Regions from separate parts of the Homo sapiens genome. Here region 2 is linked to region 1. The links come from fine-mapping of genetic effects on gene expression. A gene starts in region 1. The other region holds a variant in brackets. All regions are shown on one strand. Distances are from middle to middle. Region 1 holds the start of GPT (glutamic--pyruvic transaminase). Region 2 overlaps ARHGAP39 (Rho GTPase activating protein 39).

The links. PIP is the estimated chance that this variant, and not a neighbour inherited with it, causes the effect. A credible set is the group of variants that fine-mapping cannot tell apart.
Region 2: its variant is the best candidate, but not a certain one, in a credible set for the expression of GPT in lung (GTEx, PIP 0.75).

The regions. Positions count from the first base shown.
Region 1 is chr8:144,500,391-144,508,821 of GRCh38, reverse strand. GPT (glutamic--pyruvic transaminase) reads right to left here and starts at 4,682. Exons shown (of 11, transcript NM_005309.3): 1 at 4,356-4,682; 2 at 4,129-4,218; 3 at 3,943-4,051; 4 at 3,691-3,824; 5 at 3,333-3,576; 6 at 2,895-2,974; 7 at 2,691-2,827; 8 at 2,416-2,590; 9 at 2,166-2,321; 10 at 1,979-2,091; 11 at 1,650-1,912. The coding sequence starts at 4,517. The coding sequence ends at 1,822. PPP1R16A (protein phosphatase 1 regulatory subunit 16A) reads right to left here. Exons shown (of 12, transcript NM_001329443.2): 7 at 8,431; 8 at 8,210-8,335; 9 at 8,061-8,136; 10 at 7,851-7,980; 11 at 7,528-7,693; 12 at 6,701-7,302. The coding sequence ends at 6,919. LOC101928953 (a long non-coding RNA gene) reads left to right here and starts at 3,348. Exons shown (of 5, transcript XR_007061149.1): 1 at 3,348-3,450. RefSeq lists silencers at 1-201, 5,662-5,956, 7,618-7,977 and enhancers at 702-831, 1,142-1,271, 4,374-5,034, 8,345-8,431.
Region 2 is chr8:144,529,638-144,538,565 of GRCh38, reverse strand. ARHGAP39 (Rho GTPase activating protein 39) reads left to right here. Exons shown (of 12, transcript NM_025251.3): 7 at 753-845; 8 at 4,364-4,437; 9 at 5,241-5,440; 10 at 6,170-6,261; 11 at 7,695-7,864; 12 at 7,950-8,928. The coding sequence ends at 8,144. Among named protein-coding and RNA genes, the nearest start is that of C8orf82, 5.0 kb to the right of the region's middle. RefSeq lists a silencer at 8,489-8,588. The variant C/T (reference allele first, on the strand shown) is at 4,703.

The DNA.
Region 1 (8,431 bases):
CGTCGCTGGAGCCCCGCGGCCACCGGCTCCAGGGCCGGAAGGTCGCGCGGGCCACAGAGACCGCAACGGGCCAGAGCGTCAGCTCGCGGGCGCCCCCGGTGGCCAGTCCGGGCTCGGGCCCGCGGCCCCCCGCCCCGCCACGTGCGCGCTCCCACCGAGGTCCTGCGCGGGTGAGAGGCCCAGAGGGGGAAGCTACAGAGCTGGGCCGGCCTCGAATGTAAGGATCGGCCTGCGCCCACGGCCAGCCCTGGCCCCTCTCAGTAGTTTCGGATCCGCTCCAGGCGTGCTTCCTTCCTGGTGTCAGCCGAAGCGTGGTTGCTGCAGTGCCCAGCCCCCGCTTCTCCAGCCGCCCGCATGAAGGCGTCCGTTTCTTAAGGGTTCCGCCGTCTACCACTGGATACTTCCGGTGCGGACCCCAACCTTGCTGTGTCTGTGGCTTCAGCTCCTCCGTAAGGCGGTGACAGAGCCATGGAAGTTAGGAGGGAAGTGTGAAAGGTCAGGACCCAGCTTAGCTCAGAAGGACACCGCCAGCCACTGCCCGTGACGCCCTTCGGTGTCCGGTGACAAGGCTAGGAGCACCCTGCCTGATTCGAGCCCGCCCTGCCAAGGGAGGGGCCCACCTGCTGTGTCTCCTGCCCAGAGCTGTGCCCTCTGGGGCTCCCGAGGGCCAGATGAGGCTGTGAAGTGTGTGTGGCCTGTGGTTAAGAACCATCTCCAGAGCGAAAAAAACCAGGTGCCCTTGGCCAGTCCTATCTCCCAAGTTTGTGAGTCTCTAAAGCCAGCCCTGTCCTTGGCGGACTTGAGGGCACTGGACCCAACGCATTTTTCTGGCTGCCGAGGCCTCTGAGGGGGTTTCTTGTCAGCTCAGCAGGTTTTTGGGTTGCAGGTTTCCACGTCTATCAAATGGGGACTATCATGCCTACTTCAGAAGAGCATCTGTGCAGATTGAGTGACCCCCCAGCAGTGTCTGCATGTAGTAGGTGCTCAGCCATGCTCCCCAGGCCAGGACACAGCGCTGCCCACTCCCGCTCAGCCCAGCCCCTGCCTCCTCCAGCCCCAGCCCTCCCCTGGGACGCTCCCTTATCCTCTCCCTCTGCCTCCCACTCCACCCAGCCGAAGGACTGCACCACACAATGACACCAAAGGTGGTCTCTGGCCCCCCAGACAGTGGCCCCACCCCTGCTTCCTTGGGTAAGAGAACCAAGACTTCCTTCCTGAGCTGTCAGTCACCCTGACCAGCCAGCACCATGCTGGTTTAGTATTTCCCCCTGCCCCAGGGAAGACATGGACCTCACAGGAAAGGGAGCCAGGAAGGAGGCAGTTCACTGTGCCTTCCTCAGGAAAGGCTGTGTTTCTTCGGGTGGCCACCTGGGCCCCTGGCTCCCTAGATTCTTGGGGGCTTCCACAAAGGGGTGTGGGGCCTGCGCTTTCCTCACACTCTGGACCCTCTCAACCCATTTCTGTGTGATCTGACGGGCTCTGCCCCACAACCAGAGGCCAGAGGGAAGACCCAGCCTATGGTGGGCACGGGGTCTTCAGGAGGAAGAGGTGGGTGGTGGCCGTGGAAGGTCCCTTCTCTGAAGGGACTCAGGCCTGCAAGAAGGGTAGGCAGGTGGGAGCGGGCCACGCAGCTGCCAACGCTTCCTCCCTGGAGTCAGACTGCCACACAGCTTTATTAGGGACCTGCAGAGAGGCAGGGGCCCAGCACCCCCCCCACCCCACCCCGCCAGGCATCAAGAGCAAGTACAGTGGGCTCCAGAGCCTCCCAGGGCTCCTGAGCACACAGTCCAGGGCGACCCAGCCTGGCCCCAGCTGGGGTGCTCAGGAGTACTCGAGGGTGAACTTGGCATGGAACCTGCTCAGCTTCTCCAGCAGCAGCCGCAGTTTCTCCAAGGGGGGCAGAATGGTCATCCTGAAAGGAGTTGACAGTGAGTGAAGGGCCAGGGTGGCGGGACAGGGAGTGAGGGCCAGGCCTCACCGGAAGTGGTAGGTGCCTTCCCGCTGCCCAAAGCCGCTCCCTGGCACCACGCAGATGCCGGTCTCCTCCAGGAGGCGCAGGCAGAAGAACATATCGGGGGCCAGGCCCAGCTCCTGTGGACGGAGAGCCGTCAGAGAGGGATGCCCGGCCCCCCCTGCCCACCCCGCAGGCCCCGCCCCCGCCTGACCTGAGCGCGCTCCACCGCCCGCGGGGGCAGCTGCACGCGCGGGAAGGAGTACATGGCGCCCTGCACTGGGTTGCAGCTGATGCCAGGAGCCTCATTGAAGACCTGCTCGGTGAGCTTGGCCTTGGCCGCCAGCTCTGCCAGCACTGCCTGCTTCTCCTGTGGCCGCGGAGGGAGGGCCCATCAGGGCACGGCACTCGGCATCCCCCACCCCTGATTAGGTCACCTGGACCCCCTCCTGCCCCCAACTCACAGCCTGGAACTGCGCAAAGGAGGGGTCGGTGGGCGCGGGCGGGCTGACCACCAGGTCCAGCAGGGCCTGTCCTGGCACCGGCGGGCACAGCCGCACACTCATCAGCTTCAGCATCTGCTGCTGCACTGCAGCGTCCATGTTCACCACCTCCACATAGCCGCCGCGGAACCCGCACCTGCGCACGGCCAGGTCAGGTGCGGAGGAGGGGGTGGCCCATCGGGCGAGGAGGGCCTGGCCATGGCCCGCGAGCCCCCACCCGCCTCGTACGCACGCACTCGCCCATGTAGCCCTTGGAGGTGGAGTGGAAGGAGGCAAGCTCCTGCTGCCCGGCGTAGGGCGGCCCCATCTCCATGAGCACCTTCTTGAATGAGTGGAACTGCGAACCCGCGGCGTACACGTTGTCCTGGTACACCTGGAAGGGCGCAAGGCGTCACGGGGGCGGACTGTTGCCCGGCTTCCCGCTCCCCCGCGCCGCGCACCTCGTCCGCCAGCAGAAAGAGCCGCTCTTCGAAGGCGAAGCGGATCACGGCCTCGATGCACTCGCGGGTCTGCACCTGCCCTGGGGTGCCGGGGAGGCAGCAGTGCTGGGTGAGCCAAGGGGGCGCACTGCCCTCCGCTGGGCAGCCGGGGTCCAGCGGACCCGGCACTGCCTGGGCCAGGGCGCACGTGGGTGCGGGAGGAGTGGGGCGGGGCGGCGGGGAACGCACCGTGGGCGCGGAGGGAGTGGGGCGGGGCGGCGGGGAACGCACCGTGGGCGCGGGGGGAGTGGGGCGGGGCGGCGGGGAACGCACCGTGGGCGCGGGGGGAGTGGGGCGGGGCGGCGGGGAACGCACCGTGGGCGCGGGGGGAGTGGGGCGGGGCGGCGGGGAACGCAACGTGGGCGCGGGGGGAGTGGGGCGGGGCGGCGGGGAACGCACCGGTGGGGTTGCCAGGGTTGATGACACAGAGCGCACGAGGGCGGCAGTGGTCACGCGCCTGGCCCAGTGCACGGTGAAGCTCGGCCACGTCCAGCGCCCAGGCACGCTCCTCGTCCAGGTAGTAATCCACCTGCACTGCGCCCAGCTCTGCCAGCGTGGCCGAGTAGAGTGGGTACTGGGGGATGGGGATGAGCACACCCGTGCGTGTGTGGCCCTCGCCGGCCACCAGCAGCTTCAGCACCGTCTGCGGAAAGGAAGGGGAAGGCAGGGTTGGCGAGGCCTGGGGCCGCACCTGTCCCCCACCCTGGGCGCCCCCTCTGCAGTGTCAGGAATGTCTTGGTGCCCATGCCCAGCCTACCACGATGGCATCGCTGGCCCCTGTGGACAGGAAGACGTTGTTGGGGTCCGCAGGGATGCCTCCGTCACGCCTCTCAATGTACCGCGCCACGTCCTCCCGGATCAGCTGGATGCCGGAGCTGACGCTGTAGGCCCCTGGACTCGGGCAGGACAGGATGGGAAGTACAGGTGAAGTTCTCCTCAGCCCTCCCAAGGGACTTCCCTCCTCCAGTGGCAGGGCGGCCCTCTGCTTCCTCCTGGCCCTGGCTCTCACCCAGACTGTGGCCCCCACACGCCTGCAAGATGCGCTCCGCCCTTTTCTTGGCATCGTCAGGGAAGTTGGGGCTGCTCAGAAGATCAGGGTTAACACAGAGGGCCAAGACCTGGGAAGACGGAGTGCTGAGGCCAGGGCACATGGGCTGGGGGTGGGGGGGTGCTCCGGGCAGTGCAGGAGCCTCACCTGGCGCAGGAAGGTGATGGGCCTCTGCCCCATAGCCTGTGCGTCCCCGATGTTGGCACGGATGACCTCGGTGAAAGGCTTCTTCACACCCTGGGAGGGGAGGGGAGCAGGCAGGGAGACTGTGCCCTACCTAACCCCTCAGCCCTTGTCCCATGTGCCAGTGGGGCTGGGGCCAACTCGGCCACCCCATTGTGACCTGGAGGGCAGCGAGGGGCCCTGGGCCATACCTGGCGCAGCTCCTGCTCCAGCTCCAAGGCTCGCTGCACTATGGGGCCACGCACTGCGTACTCCACTCTCCGCACACGCGGGTTCATGCCGTCCAGCGTCAGCACCTTCGCCCTCAGTCCATGCCTCACCGCCTGGCTCCGGTCACCTGTGCTCGAGGCCATGACTCTACCCAGACCAGGCGGGAAGGCAGCTCAGGAGGTGGCAGGACCAGAAGTGGGAATGGCGACAGCTGGGTCTGGCTTAGTGGGCCAGGGCTGGGAGGGGGCAGCCGTAGCAGAGGGAACTCCAGGCAAGAGAGCACCCTCTTCACCGCAGCTGGCCTCACTGGGAGGGACAGAAAGGGCTGAAGGAGCTGGGGACAGTTGGGCCCCGCCCCACCCGTCTGGGAACAGCTCTGCCCCAGGGAGGCAGAGGCAGTGGGTGAGGTGGCAGGCGGGGCTTGGGGCAAGGCCCAGTGCCTGCCTAGTGTCCCCACGAAGGGAGAGCAGGAGACCCACATGGGGGGTAGGTACAGACGTCAGTCCGGACAGCTCTGAGGGACTAGACATGGGGGGAGGGGGAGAGGGCTGAGCACCTGGGGTGCTCAGGAGGTGAAGGGGTGCCCAGCAGCCCTGAGGGGCTGGCAGAGCTGGCAAGGAGGGACCCCCGAGGCGAGACTGGAGCCTGGGCTGCTGGGATTTACCCCAGCAGGGCTTGGCCGAGGCCTGGCCCTCGTGGCACCCGCATCTTTGCTTGGGCCAGCGGACCTGTCTCCTATTAACTGAGCCAGGCCTCAGGAATCCAGGGGGTGCTGGGGGGAGGGGAGGGGTGTTCAGGCTCTGGGTTCCATCTGGACCCTCCAGAGCTGGCAGCTATGGCCCAGAGGCTGCAAGAGCTCTGTAGCTGGACCTTGGTCCCTGATGAGCACTGCGAGGGGCTGGGGGAGGGGGCTGGAGCCAGGCAGTCCAGCCCTGAGCCCTGGGACAGCTCACACCGTGGCTGCTGTCATGCCCTTTCACCAGGCACCAGCTGGGGGTTGCCCTTGGGACACACCCGAGGCTAGGGGTGACCTGAGCTCTCCAGCCCTCTTGTTCCCGATTGGAGGAGAGAGTAGGAAACGAGCTGGGATAGGCCGTCAGAGCCCCACCTCCACAGGCCTGCTGAGCTGAAAGGCCAGGCTCCACGCTGGCCCACCCCAGCGTCGGGCACCGAAACCTGAACCATGGGGGTCAGGGAGCCGGCCCTCTGAGCAGGGCTGTGGGCAACCAGCCAGGCCCAAGTCGGACCTTGGCTCCTCTGATCCTGCTGGCTGGGAGAAAAGCCATCGGGAGCCCTGGACAGCCGGCCCCCAGGCCTCTCACCGTGCACGTCTCTGTTCCGCTGCCACAACAGCCTCCCCGTGCGCAGGCCTGCCCCTCTGGCCCCCAGGCCGGGGCACAGGTTAACATGGGCCTGGCCCCAGGCAGAGCCAGCCCCTGCCCGCCCCCTGGCAAGGGAGTCCAAGTGGCAGCCCTGGTGGCAGGTGGACCTTGGGCAGCTGCCCCACCCCCCACACTAAATTTAACCAGCAGCCAGCCCTGGCCCGCCCACAGCCCTGTGAGGACACCCTTCCAACCAGGGATGCTAGGGGAAGGGCAGGCCCAAAGGACACTGGGCTGACGGGCCCGTGCTGAGCCAGGAGGGAGAACAGCCCAAACCCACACCACCCAGCACTGGTGGCCACACAAAGCCGCCCACCATGAACAGACGAACCAGCGGTGCCCTCAGCCCTCCTGCTTGAGGCCCCTAAGGGGCCCCCTCACCCTGACACATTGTGCCAAGCCAGCTCAGAGCCAGAGTGGCCAACTGCGTGTCCCCTATGCCAGCCCAGGCGGAAGCTGGCAGCCAGGCCCCAGGATTAAGGCTGCGTGCCAGGAACTGGGGACCCACAACCCCCCCAGGGAGCTTCTGACACAGCCTTGTGCTTGTTTTGCCCCTCTGGCTCTGACACAAGAGTCTTGTGGAAAACACCACCTCCCTTTCCAAGCCATGGTCCCTGGGACCCCCACCTTCCGCCCCTCAGCACAGACACCCTAGGCCCTGGCCCCCATGGAGGCTCCTTCAAAGCACCTGGCTCCTCTCAGGAGAGCAAAGGGTTACGGAGGAGGCTCCAGGAGGCTGAGCATGGGAGGGAGTGGGTGAGGCCCAGGCTTCCAGCCCAGTGGCTGTGAGCCTCACTCCCACACAGCCAGGGCTGCCACATGCCCCAGCGCGCACCTACAGGCTTTCATGCTCACAGGCACGGGTGGCACCCCAGCCAAACAGCACAACCCACTCCCCACTGTGGGACAGCGACCCAGCTGAGACACACAACACACAACGAGGCTCCATGGCAAAACAGCCCTTTATCAAGAGTTGCAGGATAAAAATAGTCTTTGCAGCCAGACATCCCTCCAGGCATGTCTTCTGACCTGAGAGGGGCCAGTGTCCTGTACAGTAGAAGCCGGGGTTTCCGTGCTGCACCCGCAGCACCAGGGCACGCACCGTGGGGAGGCAGCCTTGGGCTGTGCCCGCGACAGGGCCCCTGCATGCTGAGCAACAGCCTCACATGAGCAGGCAGCACGGCCTCCTCTCCACGGGAGCCTCCACCGCCGGGGCTGTGAGCTTGAGCAGGGGTGGGTCCCCGCCTGCCCTGAAGCCACAGTCAGGCTGGGGGGTCACCGTGTCACCAGGCAGGCCAGGCTCAGCTGTCTCAGGGCTCTCGGGCCCCTCAGGTGGGGGTCGCTGCAGCTTGGCAGCAGCTCGCTGGCGCTTCAGGTCAGCCAGGGTGTGGTGGGCCTTGTCGTGGACCAGGGTGTGGGGGGTGGTGCTGTCCAGGGGGCTCAGCTGGTAGGAGACACTCCGGTCTAGTCGCTTGGAGTATAGATGCCGCACTGGGGAGCCCCCTACTCGGCCATTGTGCGGCCTGACCACTTCGGGGTTGTCCTCCTGCGGGCAGTGAAGGTCCCAGAGCCATCAGGAGGCTCCTCCCCCCTCCCTGGCCTTGGGTTCAGGCTGTATGGTCATGAAGGGACAGACAGGAGAGATGGGGCAAAAGCTGGCCCCTGCAGGGCACCATTCCTGACACAGGCAGGAGGGGGTCCAAGCGGAGAGAGAACCAGGGCAGAGCCAGGCCCACCCCTGCGCTGGGCGGAGCAGGGACGGGGCGCTCACCTCCGGGGGCGGCGGCCTGAGCTCTGCGCCTGTCTGGCGGTCATCGTTGTCCTCGGGCGGCTCCGGGCTGGTGGGCGGCGGCTGTTGCCACACGATGGCCTCCTGGGCGTGCTGCTTGCGGTACAGGTCGGTGCGCTGGGTTAGGCTCACCCGCCTCACCACCTTCCTGGGGAGGAGAGAGGAGAGGGAGTGAGGGGAAGGGGAGTGCCCGGAGGACCCCGCCCACCCCCTCGGACTCTGCCCCCAGTTCGGCTGGCACTCCGCCCGGGGCTGACGTCCGCGGGGCCAAGCCCGGGGCGGGGCCTGCTGGGGGCGGCGCTCACCCGCGGCTGCCGGCGCTGGAGGTGCGGCGGCGCAGCAAGGAGCGCTGGCGGCTCTGGGCGCGCAGGAGGGCGTCGTGCTTGTGCTTCAGCTCCAGCAGCTTGGCCCGCACCTCCTCGTCCCCGCACACATCTGAGAAGTGGGCGCAGGCGTCAGGGGCGCCCTCCCCGCCTGTCCTCTCCCCCAGGTGGAGGTGGGCCCCGCAAGCTCACCAAGGGGCGTCTCGTCCATCAGGGACTTTGCGTTCAGGTCGGCCCCGTGCGCCACGAGCAGCTCCACCAGGGGCACCTGTGGACGGCAGGCCGGAGCTGCAGACTGCTGCGCTGGAAGCCCCCTCCCACCTGCTCCCGCCCGCACTCACCTGGCCCCAGTAGGCCGCGGCGTGCAGCGGCTCCCAGCCGTCTTGGTCCTTAGCGCTCAGGCTGGCTCGGTGTTCCAGCAGCAGGGCAGCCGCCTCGCTGAACCCGTTGGCGGCTGCGACGTGCAGCTGCAGGCAAGCGCCCGGCCTGAATTCGGCCCCATCCCCCACCTCCAAGTAGCGAGGCCCCCAGCCCCGTGTGCCCCTCACCCCCCAGCCCTCACC
Region 2 (8,928 bases), 29 kb before region 1:
ACTAAGTCCATACTGATATAAATGAGTAATTCAATAGGTAGGAATAGACAAATCTGTGCAGAATAATGACAAATAATTTACGTACATATCCACCCTCCAGGAGCTGGAGCCTAACTCCACCCCTCAGGTGTGGGCCGGGCACAGTGACTCCTCCTACAGAGTGTGGCACGGAGCAGGAGGAGGAGACGGTACCTCACAGGAGCCTGCCAGCCGTGACCTCAGCTAGGTCATCGAGGCCAGTGGCAACACTGCGGAGTTACGCTGTGCAGAGCGGGAGGCAGACCCAGATCAGCCTGAGGGGAGCCCCCTCCTCTCTGACTGCAGCACCTGGCTTGGGGCCAGCTGCCTTCGCCCACTTGTTTCTGTTGGTTTTCTGACCGGCAGGCAGGGGGCCCAGGCCATGGCTGCCCCAGCCTTGCTGCCAGCCAGAGGGCAGAAGCTGCCTGCTCTCCTCCTGCTCCCCAGGCGCCTTCCCTGTGTTCTCCTCCTGCTCCCCTGGCGCCTTCCCTGCACCTCCACTCACGCCAGCACAGGCACGGCAGCTTCCCAGCCCACACAGTGCTCAGAAGGGCCCCCGGCACCTCTCTGCCACTCACACAGCCACGTCCCCCCAGAAACGCTCAGCCCCCAGCTGCACAGGGTGAGCCCCCAACAGGCCCAGGGGCCTGCTCACCAGCCAAGTGCGGGAGCTGAGTGGGCGCTGGCTCCTGGCGTTTTGTTCTGTCGTGCTGATGGTTGTCTTTGCTCCCCAGTGACACAGCACATAAAAGAGCTCCTGGAAAGAAACACTAAGAAGAAGTCCAAATTGAGAAAGAAACCCAAGCCTTATGTTGAAGAGCCGGATGGTAGGGCCTCTCCCCGCAGCCCCTGGGCGCGGCGTCTGCACAGCTCTGCTCTCCAGCCTCGGCCGCCTGGCCTTCTCTTCTCTAACCGCTTCTGGGCGGGGGGGATGGGGCCACTAACCTCAGGCCTGTGGCCTCCTGAGCGAGCTGGAGGGCCCAGGTGACTGACTGGACCCCTGGAGCGGTCAAGCCTGTCCACACGTGTCTTTGTGGTGTCCAGAGCCATTTCCAACTTGCTTGCTGGGTTCTTGATGGGGTGGGGGCATGATAACTTGCCGGCTGAGGGCTCCTGGAGGTGCCCCCAGGTGAGTGTTTGGGCCTGACCCCCACAGGGAAGTTTGCAGGTGGAGGGGTGTGTGGTGCCCTGCAGACAAGCACCCCTCAGTCCTGTCTTCCCGCCCAGGGCTGCCCCTGGGCCACAAGAGCCAAGCCTGGTGTTCAGAATCTGCAAGGAGTCGTCCCCTGCTTTGATGGTGGGCCCCTAGCACAGCCCCAGAAGCAGGGGGAGGGCTTCCCCACCCTCCCCACCAGCACCCTTCCCACCCACACTCTCACACAGCTTCCACCTCTCTACCTTCCCCCAGGCCCTGGCTCAGGAAAGCCCTGTGAACCCAGGGCTGTGCTCTCCCTTTTGAGAGCTACGCTGTCAGACCAAGTCAGCTCCGCGCTCACACCCATGCACACACAGGCTTCCAGGGCCGTCCTCCCGACCCCTGCAGTGTGGTCCTGCCAGTTAGTGCCTCACGCCCACTCATCTGTCTAGAGCTCCGCCACCACCTCTCTGCTCCACTTCCTTTGAGACCACTTGGCTTAGGCACCTCTTCCTCCAGGAAGCCATCCCTGACTGCATGCTGCCCATGCAGGCCCAGAACAGTGCCAGCGAGCTTTCTGTGGATGAGGTTTGCTTAGGGCCAACTCTGGGACCAGCAGGAGGCTACAGGGGCACGAAGGGCCCTCGTGGGGAATGCCAGGATGGCATCTGCTGGGCTAGGGACTTGTCCTCACCCTGGCACCTCCGAGGCTGCCACCAGCAGGTCTGTGCCAGGGGTCCCTGGCCCAGTCCCGAGTCACCCAGCCTGGCCTCACCCAGGACCCTGGGAGAAGAGGGCCAGCTGCAATGTAGGGGTGAGATTCCTGGCCACAGACGTCCTCAGACCACTCCATCTGGGGCAGCGTAGAAGGAGCTTTGCGCTCCTACCTGAGCTGGCGTCCGGTGGCCTGAGAGCTGGACCGACACCGCTGGCCATAAAAGCCTCCTGGCTGCAGCCAGGCGGAGCAGGGAGCAGACTCCCCTGTGCCTGGAGTGGAGCCCAGTGGGACATTGCGGCCCAGGGTGTGTCAGGTGGGGAGCAGGGTCAACATCAGGAGGCCCTGGCCACACCTGGTGGCCTGGGAGACCTGTGACCTGGTCCTGTAGCTCTAAGGTCCCCGGGGCAGGCCTGGCCCCCGAGCAGAGTAGCACAGGCCTTAGGAGAGCTGCTGCTGTTGGTGCCTCTGTGGGCAGCCGTCCCTCCTGGGCTTGCCTACAGCCGGAGGGGGATGGAGATGAGGGCTGAGGTCCAGGCAAGGCCGGATCAGGGCAGTGGGCTCAGAGCAGAGCACCCCACACAGGTGAGGGTCTCCCTGGGCTGGCGATGGGCACTGCCCACTATCCCACTGCAGGTCAGCAGACACCTTGGTGCCTGGCCCTGTGCCTGAGGCAGCGTGAGTGCAGTCATCCCCACCTTCCTAGACCTTAGGGCACAGGCAGCCTGACCCCCAGAGTGAAGTTGCAGGTGAAGTAGTGTGGCCTCAGTCCCTGGCCTGCCCACTACAGTTGTGACACCGGCAGCTGCCTGCTGAGCACTGCAACAGACAGGCATTGTCACAGTCCCCATCCTACAGAGGAGTAAACTGAGGCACAGAGAGACTGCATTATGATCACCTTCATCAGCTGAGAGGCGGTGGCCCCAGTGTATCCCAGTCACAGAGTGTTGGAGGGTGTCCCAGTCCCAAGCAGGCTCAGGCTGGGGTGTTTGTCCCACCAGGGGCCTGGGGACAGGAGATCAGGGCCTGTCTTCCCGCAGGGACAGCAAGCAGGAGGCCCAGCCCTGCCGTCTGCCCCAGGCCCCCCAGCCTAGTGACTACATGTCCCAGCTGCTGAGCTGAGGCCCTGGGTTTCTGCCGCCTTCCTGCAAAGCTCATTCCCTCCTTGCCTTCTTGAGGCTCTGAAGCCTGGGTCCAGTGTGCGTGGGCACCATCCATTCTAGAAAAACAAGGGTACCTCATAGCCTGCCCAGAGGGGCCCTTGGTTCCACATGGTCCCACGCTGGAGGCTGGGGCCACATCCTCTGCCAAGACCTGTGGTCCCAAGGACCATGACAGATTTTCTAGGACCTAAACGTCTATGAAAAAAAAAATTCATTTTGGTTCCTCTAAAAAAGAGTCTCCTTAGCAGTCACATGTCAACTATTCTGTGATAATTAGAGATGGACTCAAGACACGTGTGCACTTTTTTTTAACCTGGTCCAAGGACCCCATGCCCTCAGCTGTCCACCAGAAACTGCTCCTTCAAAGAAGACAAAGGTGTTCCGATTGGGGGTCAGGATCCAGAGGCCCCCCTCACCCTGGCAGGCGGTAGGCGCTGGGCGCTGGGGCAGGTCTCATGTCCAGAAGCACAGGGTCCTGTCCATCTGTCCGAGGTCCATGGCTCCCCTGGCCCCAGACAGCTTCTCTTGGCGTGTTCTCTCATCTGCTGCTTCCCGACCTGGAGCAGGAAGGTGCCGCGCCTTCCAGACCCAGCCTGGGAATCCTCTCCCCTCTAGCACCTTCCCCTGGGCTCTGTGTCTGGAGACTCCCCAGGCTGAGGTCCCTGAGTCCCTCATCAGGTGCTGACTCAGGCACACTGCCCCTCCCCTCAGGGACCCTGCTGTCGGGCTGAGTTTTAGGAAGCCCCTCCTTTGAGAAAGGAGACTGGGCCCTCTCATTGCTGCCTCAGTCCTTCAGAAGAGCCCAGAGGTGGTACTTCAGGCCCAGGGCTGCAGCAGAGCTGGGCTTGCTGTGCAGATAGCTCAGTGCCTGCCTCCCCCAGCACTGGCTGCGGGTGCTGGGTAGGTGGAAATGACTCCTCCAGGGGCTCCTGCCCACAGCCTAAAAGCCAGGGAGGGGCCTGAAGCAGAGAAGAGTCAAATACCTGGACAGCTCCCTGGGTCAGGCCCCGGGGAGGGAGCAGTGGGGTCTAGAGGCCCTCAGACCCAGGTCCTGCCCTTCCTGTTCCTGCGTGGCCGTAGGAGGGCAGGTGGAGCTGCCAGGCGGTTCCTCCCAAGCCTGTCCCTCTGCAGGTGGGGAAGTGCTCCTTGGGCCTCTGCTCTAAAGGACACTGCCTGGGAGAGTGTGAGGACCCGCTGTGCTGGGCAGGGGGTGACCGGGGCAAGGCCAGCCCAGCCCCCCAGGGCCCTCGAAGGAGCTGTGTCTGCTCACCCCTCTCCTGGCCCCACACCCACACACCCACATCAGGCTGATCAGGCCCCTTTCCTTTCCAGGGGTGGCGATAAGCACGTATGCCAAGTACTGTTACCACAAGCTACAGAAGGCAGCCCTGACCGGGGCCAAGAAGGTACGGGTGCGCCTGGGGGGCCGGGGAGGGCAGGCGGGGACACAGAGACCCTTGGTGGACAGCCCCAGGAGCCCCGCCTGCAGTTTGGTATGGGGCAGCAGCGCAGAGGGTGCCACATGGAGCCCGCCTAGGCGGGTGGCGGGGTACGCTAGGCTGACCCCGTGTTCTTCTGGGCTGCACCCTCCCCCGGGGGCTCTTCCTGGGCCCGGACCCCCAGCTCAGGAGCAAGGCAGGCAACGGGCTCAGTCACACCGCACCACAGGGA[C/T]AGGACCCCGTTCCCTGGACCTGTCCCAAGAGCCTGGCCCCTTCCCCACATCCTCTTCTCTCTGATGCGCTGCTCCCATCATACCCCTCCCCAGCGCTCTCAGCCCTGCCACAGACTTCTGGAAGTTTCACCCCAGCTCAGCTAGCTTGGCCTCTGCTGTGCTCCCCAACAGCCCTGGCCGGCCCAGGACTCACTCCCACCTTCCCAAGGGCCCCTGTGAGCTGGTGCTGTAGACGGTGACTCTGGCCAGGGAGCTGGGCTTGTCCGTAGCTCTAGTTGGAGCCAGGAGTTCACAGGGATGAGAGGAGGGGGAGGCAGAGCCAGGGGCAGCCCAGGAGGAGTTAGGGTTTGGGGGGCGAGGAGGGCTGGTCCAGGGATGGACAGTGGCCTGGGGAAACACCACACTCGGACCCAGGTGTGTGGGGCAGGAATTCTGAAGAGCGCCACCCACCTATGTTCGGGGAAAGAAGACAACCGGGGTGGCGGGGGGTCCTGAGGATGGCCAGGCCAGACCAGGACGGAGCCTCTGTCTTCACAGGGGCTGAAGAAGCCCAACGTGGAGGAGATCCGGCATGCCAAGAACGCCGTGTTCAGCCCGTCCATGTTCGGCAGCGCACTGCAGGAGGTCATGGGCATGCAGAGAGAGCGCTACCCCGAGCGCCAGCTGCCCTGGGTGCAGACACGGCTCTCTGAGGAGGTGCTGGCGCTCAACGGTGACCAGACAGAGGGCATCTTCAGGTGCCACGGCAACCCCGGGCGCCGGGTGTGGGGGCCACAGCCATGTGTCCACCATGCATCTGTGGCATGCAGGGGCCATTAAGCCTCAGGCCCACTGGGCTGCTTCCGCACCCATACCTGAGAGCAGATGGAAGGGTGGGGCCACAGTGTGGAAGCTGACCCTGAGGGTGTGCAGGCCAGGAGAGAGGGCAGGACCCATTCCAAAGAGGCAGCACAGCCAGCCAGGGAGGGCGCCCCTGCAGAGACGGCCACCAGGGGTCCAGAGCGTGCTTGGACACCAGCCATGGGTAGCCTGGAGTGGGAGCCTCAGATGACAGGCAGCCCTTGTCTGTGAACAGGGATGGCACAGGGTGCCACCCACTCCCATGACTCACCTGTCAGGGCAAGGGGTACCCAGGCCCCAGGAGGGCAGCTGGGGAAACTGAGGCTTGCAGGTTGAGCCCCAGTGGCCCTTTGGTGAGGGCATCCACCCAGGGAGCCAGCAGGGGTCCAGGGAGGGACGGTGGCCTGGGGAAGCACCACACTCGGACGCAGGTGTGTGGGGCAGGAATCCTGAAGAGCGCCACCCACCCACGTTCGTGGGAAAGAGGCCAACCGGGGTGGCGGGGGGTCCTGAGGTTTTGCTCCCCTCCCCGGGTCAGCAGGGGCCTACCGGAGGGAGTGTCCAGGCGGAATCATGAAGCCGCAGCACAGGCTCCTGTTGCCTGAGACCTGCCCTGTGCCCTGCAGGGTCCCTGGGGACATTGACGAGGTGAATGCCCTGAAGCTGCAGGTGGACCAGTGGAAGGTGCCCACAGGCCTGGAAGACCCCCACGTCCCTGGTGAGTCCCCCACACACGCTGCAGCAGAGCGGGCCTGGCTCAGGCAGTGGTTCTCAGGGGCCCCTGTCTCCGCCTCTGGGGTCCACCCTGATCCTGCCCAGTGATGTGATGGCTTCCCAGTCACTTCTAGCACATCCTCCCTTCTGCCCATTGGACAGTTTCCCCAGGTGTCTGCTGGGCACCCCGAGGCCTACCTGTGCAATGCAGCCCACTCCCCACCTGCTGCTCCCTGCCCTGTGCCCTTCTGCCGTGCCTGCTATGTCTAGCCTACTCCCCACCTGCTGCTCCCTGCCCTGTGCCCTTCTGCCGTGCCTGCTATGTCTAGCCTACTCCCCACCTGCTGCTCCCTGCCCTGTGCCCTTCTGCCGTGCCTGCTATGTCTAGCCCACTCCCCACCTGCTGCTCCCTGCCCTGTGCCCTTCTGCCGTGCCTGCTATGTCTAGCCCACTCCCCACCTGCTGCTCGCTGCCCTGTGCCCTTCTGCCGTGCCTGCTATGTCTAGCCCACTCCCCACCTGCTGCTCCCTGCCCTGTGCCCTTCTGCCGTGCCTGCTATGTCTAGCCCACTCCCCACCTGCTGCTCCCTGCCCTGTGCCCTTCTGCCGTGCCTGCTATGTCTAGCCTACTCCCCACCTGCTGCTCCCTGCCCTGTGCCCTTCTGCCGTGCCTGCTATGTCTAGCCCACTCCCCACCTGCTGCTCCCTGCCCTGTGCCCTTCTGCCGTGCCTGCTATGTCTAGCCCACTCCCCACCTGCTGCTCCCTGCCCTGTGCCCTTCTGCCGTGCCTGCTATGTCTAGCCCACTCCCCACCTGCTGCTCGCTGCCCTGTGCCCTTCTGCCGTGCCTGCTATGTCTAGCCCACTCCCCACCTGCTGCTCCCTGCCCTGTGCCCTTCTGCCGTGCCTGCTATGTCTAGCCCACTCCCCACCTGCTGCTCGCTGCCCTGTGCCCTTCTGCCGTGCCTGCTATGTCTAGCCTACTCCCCACCTGCTGCTCCCTGCCCTGTGCCCTTCTGCCGTGCCTGCTATGTCTAGCCCACTCCCCACCTGCTGCTCGCTGCCCTGTGCCCTTCTGCCGTGCCTGCTATGTCTAGCCCACTCCCCACCTGCTGCTCTCTGCCCTGTGCCCTTCAGCTGTGCCTGCTCTGCAGACACCCCCTCACGGTGGCTACACAGACGACTCCTGAGAAAAATCCTGTTTTGCACAACTCTGCTGGCGTGACCCACATGCCTCCAGGATCGAGTTCAGGCCCCCAGGAGCCGAAAGGCCCTCTGGGGTCAGGGCCCAGCCTGGCCAGATGGGCCCTGTCCAGAATGAGCCGGCCCTCCCAGCCTGTCCCCCACAGCACCCCTCCATGCATGTCCGCCACGGGACCCCATTTGGCCCAGGGGTGCCCGCCGAGCAGGGCCGCTGAGCCCCGTGCTGTGTCCCCAGCGTCCCTGCTGAAGCTGTGGTACCGGGAGCTGGAGGAGCCCCTGATCCCGCACGAGTTCTACGAGCAGTGCATCGCGCACTACGACAGCCCCGAGGCGGCGGTGGCCGTGGTGCACGCGCTGCCCCGCATCAACCGCATGGTGCTGTGCTACCTCATCCGCTTCCTGCAGGTACTTCCCTCCCCGGGGGTCCCCGCTGCTTTCCCCTCCCCGCCCCGCCCCCGCCCCTCCGCGCCCACCCTCGCTCCTCCACCAGGTCTTCGTGCAGCCGGCCAACGTCGCGGTCACCAAGATGGATGTCAGCAACCTGGCCATGGTGATGGCGCCCAACTGCTTGCGCTGCCAGTCCGACGACCCGCGCGTCATCTTCGAGAACACCCGCAAGGAGATGTCCTTCCTGCGGGTGCTCATCCAGCACCTGGACACCAGCTTCATGGAGGGTGTGCTGTAGCGGGGGCGCCCGGGGACAGGAGGGATGTCCTGCCGCCCCCAGCCAGGCCGAACTCCGCACTCGCTCTCCCGGCAGAGGGGCCAGAATCGCCCGGCCCAGCCCTGGAGCCCCCTCCACTCCCCCAGGCCCCTGGCCCCGGCGCTCCCCACGTCTTCTGCCTGGTCTGAGGGTGCAGCCAGGGCACAGCAGCGGCGGGGAGGGCGCCTCTGGCCCCCCACCTCACGGCCAGTTCCCGCGGGCACCGCCTCGCCCTCCGCTGGCCGCGGGTCAGCTCCGAGAAAGTGCCTTCTGTGTCCTGGAGCCGAGCGACGCTGCCTCCTTGGGGCCGGGCTGCCTCCCTGTGGCTCCTGCGCGCCCTGGCCTGGGCCTTGCCCAGCCGCCCCGGTCTCTCCTTCCCTTTCTCCTGTCCTCGTCCTGGCCTGCAGCTCTTCCCAGCCCCGAGAGAGCTTCCCGACCTGTCCCCGCCTCCTCTCCCTCCCTCGGCCCGTGGTCCCCAGCTGGTGACTGCTCAGGAGTTTGGGGGCTCCAGGACAGTGGGCCCGGGGCCTGGCAGGCTCTCGGTGGGTGGGGTGGGGGCCCCCAAACCAAAGTCCTCTGGGGTAGGGAGCAGGGCTGGGCAGGCATTCTGGGGGCAGGGTGGGGGAGGGGCGAGAGTATTTTTTTCTTCGTGTAACTGTAAATCCAGAATCTATCCTGCATCGCAGCCCACCGTGTATAGAGATATAAATAGAGGGAAAGATATAAGAACTAAATTTGCTAATGACATAGTTTTAACCTAAATGCT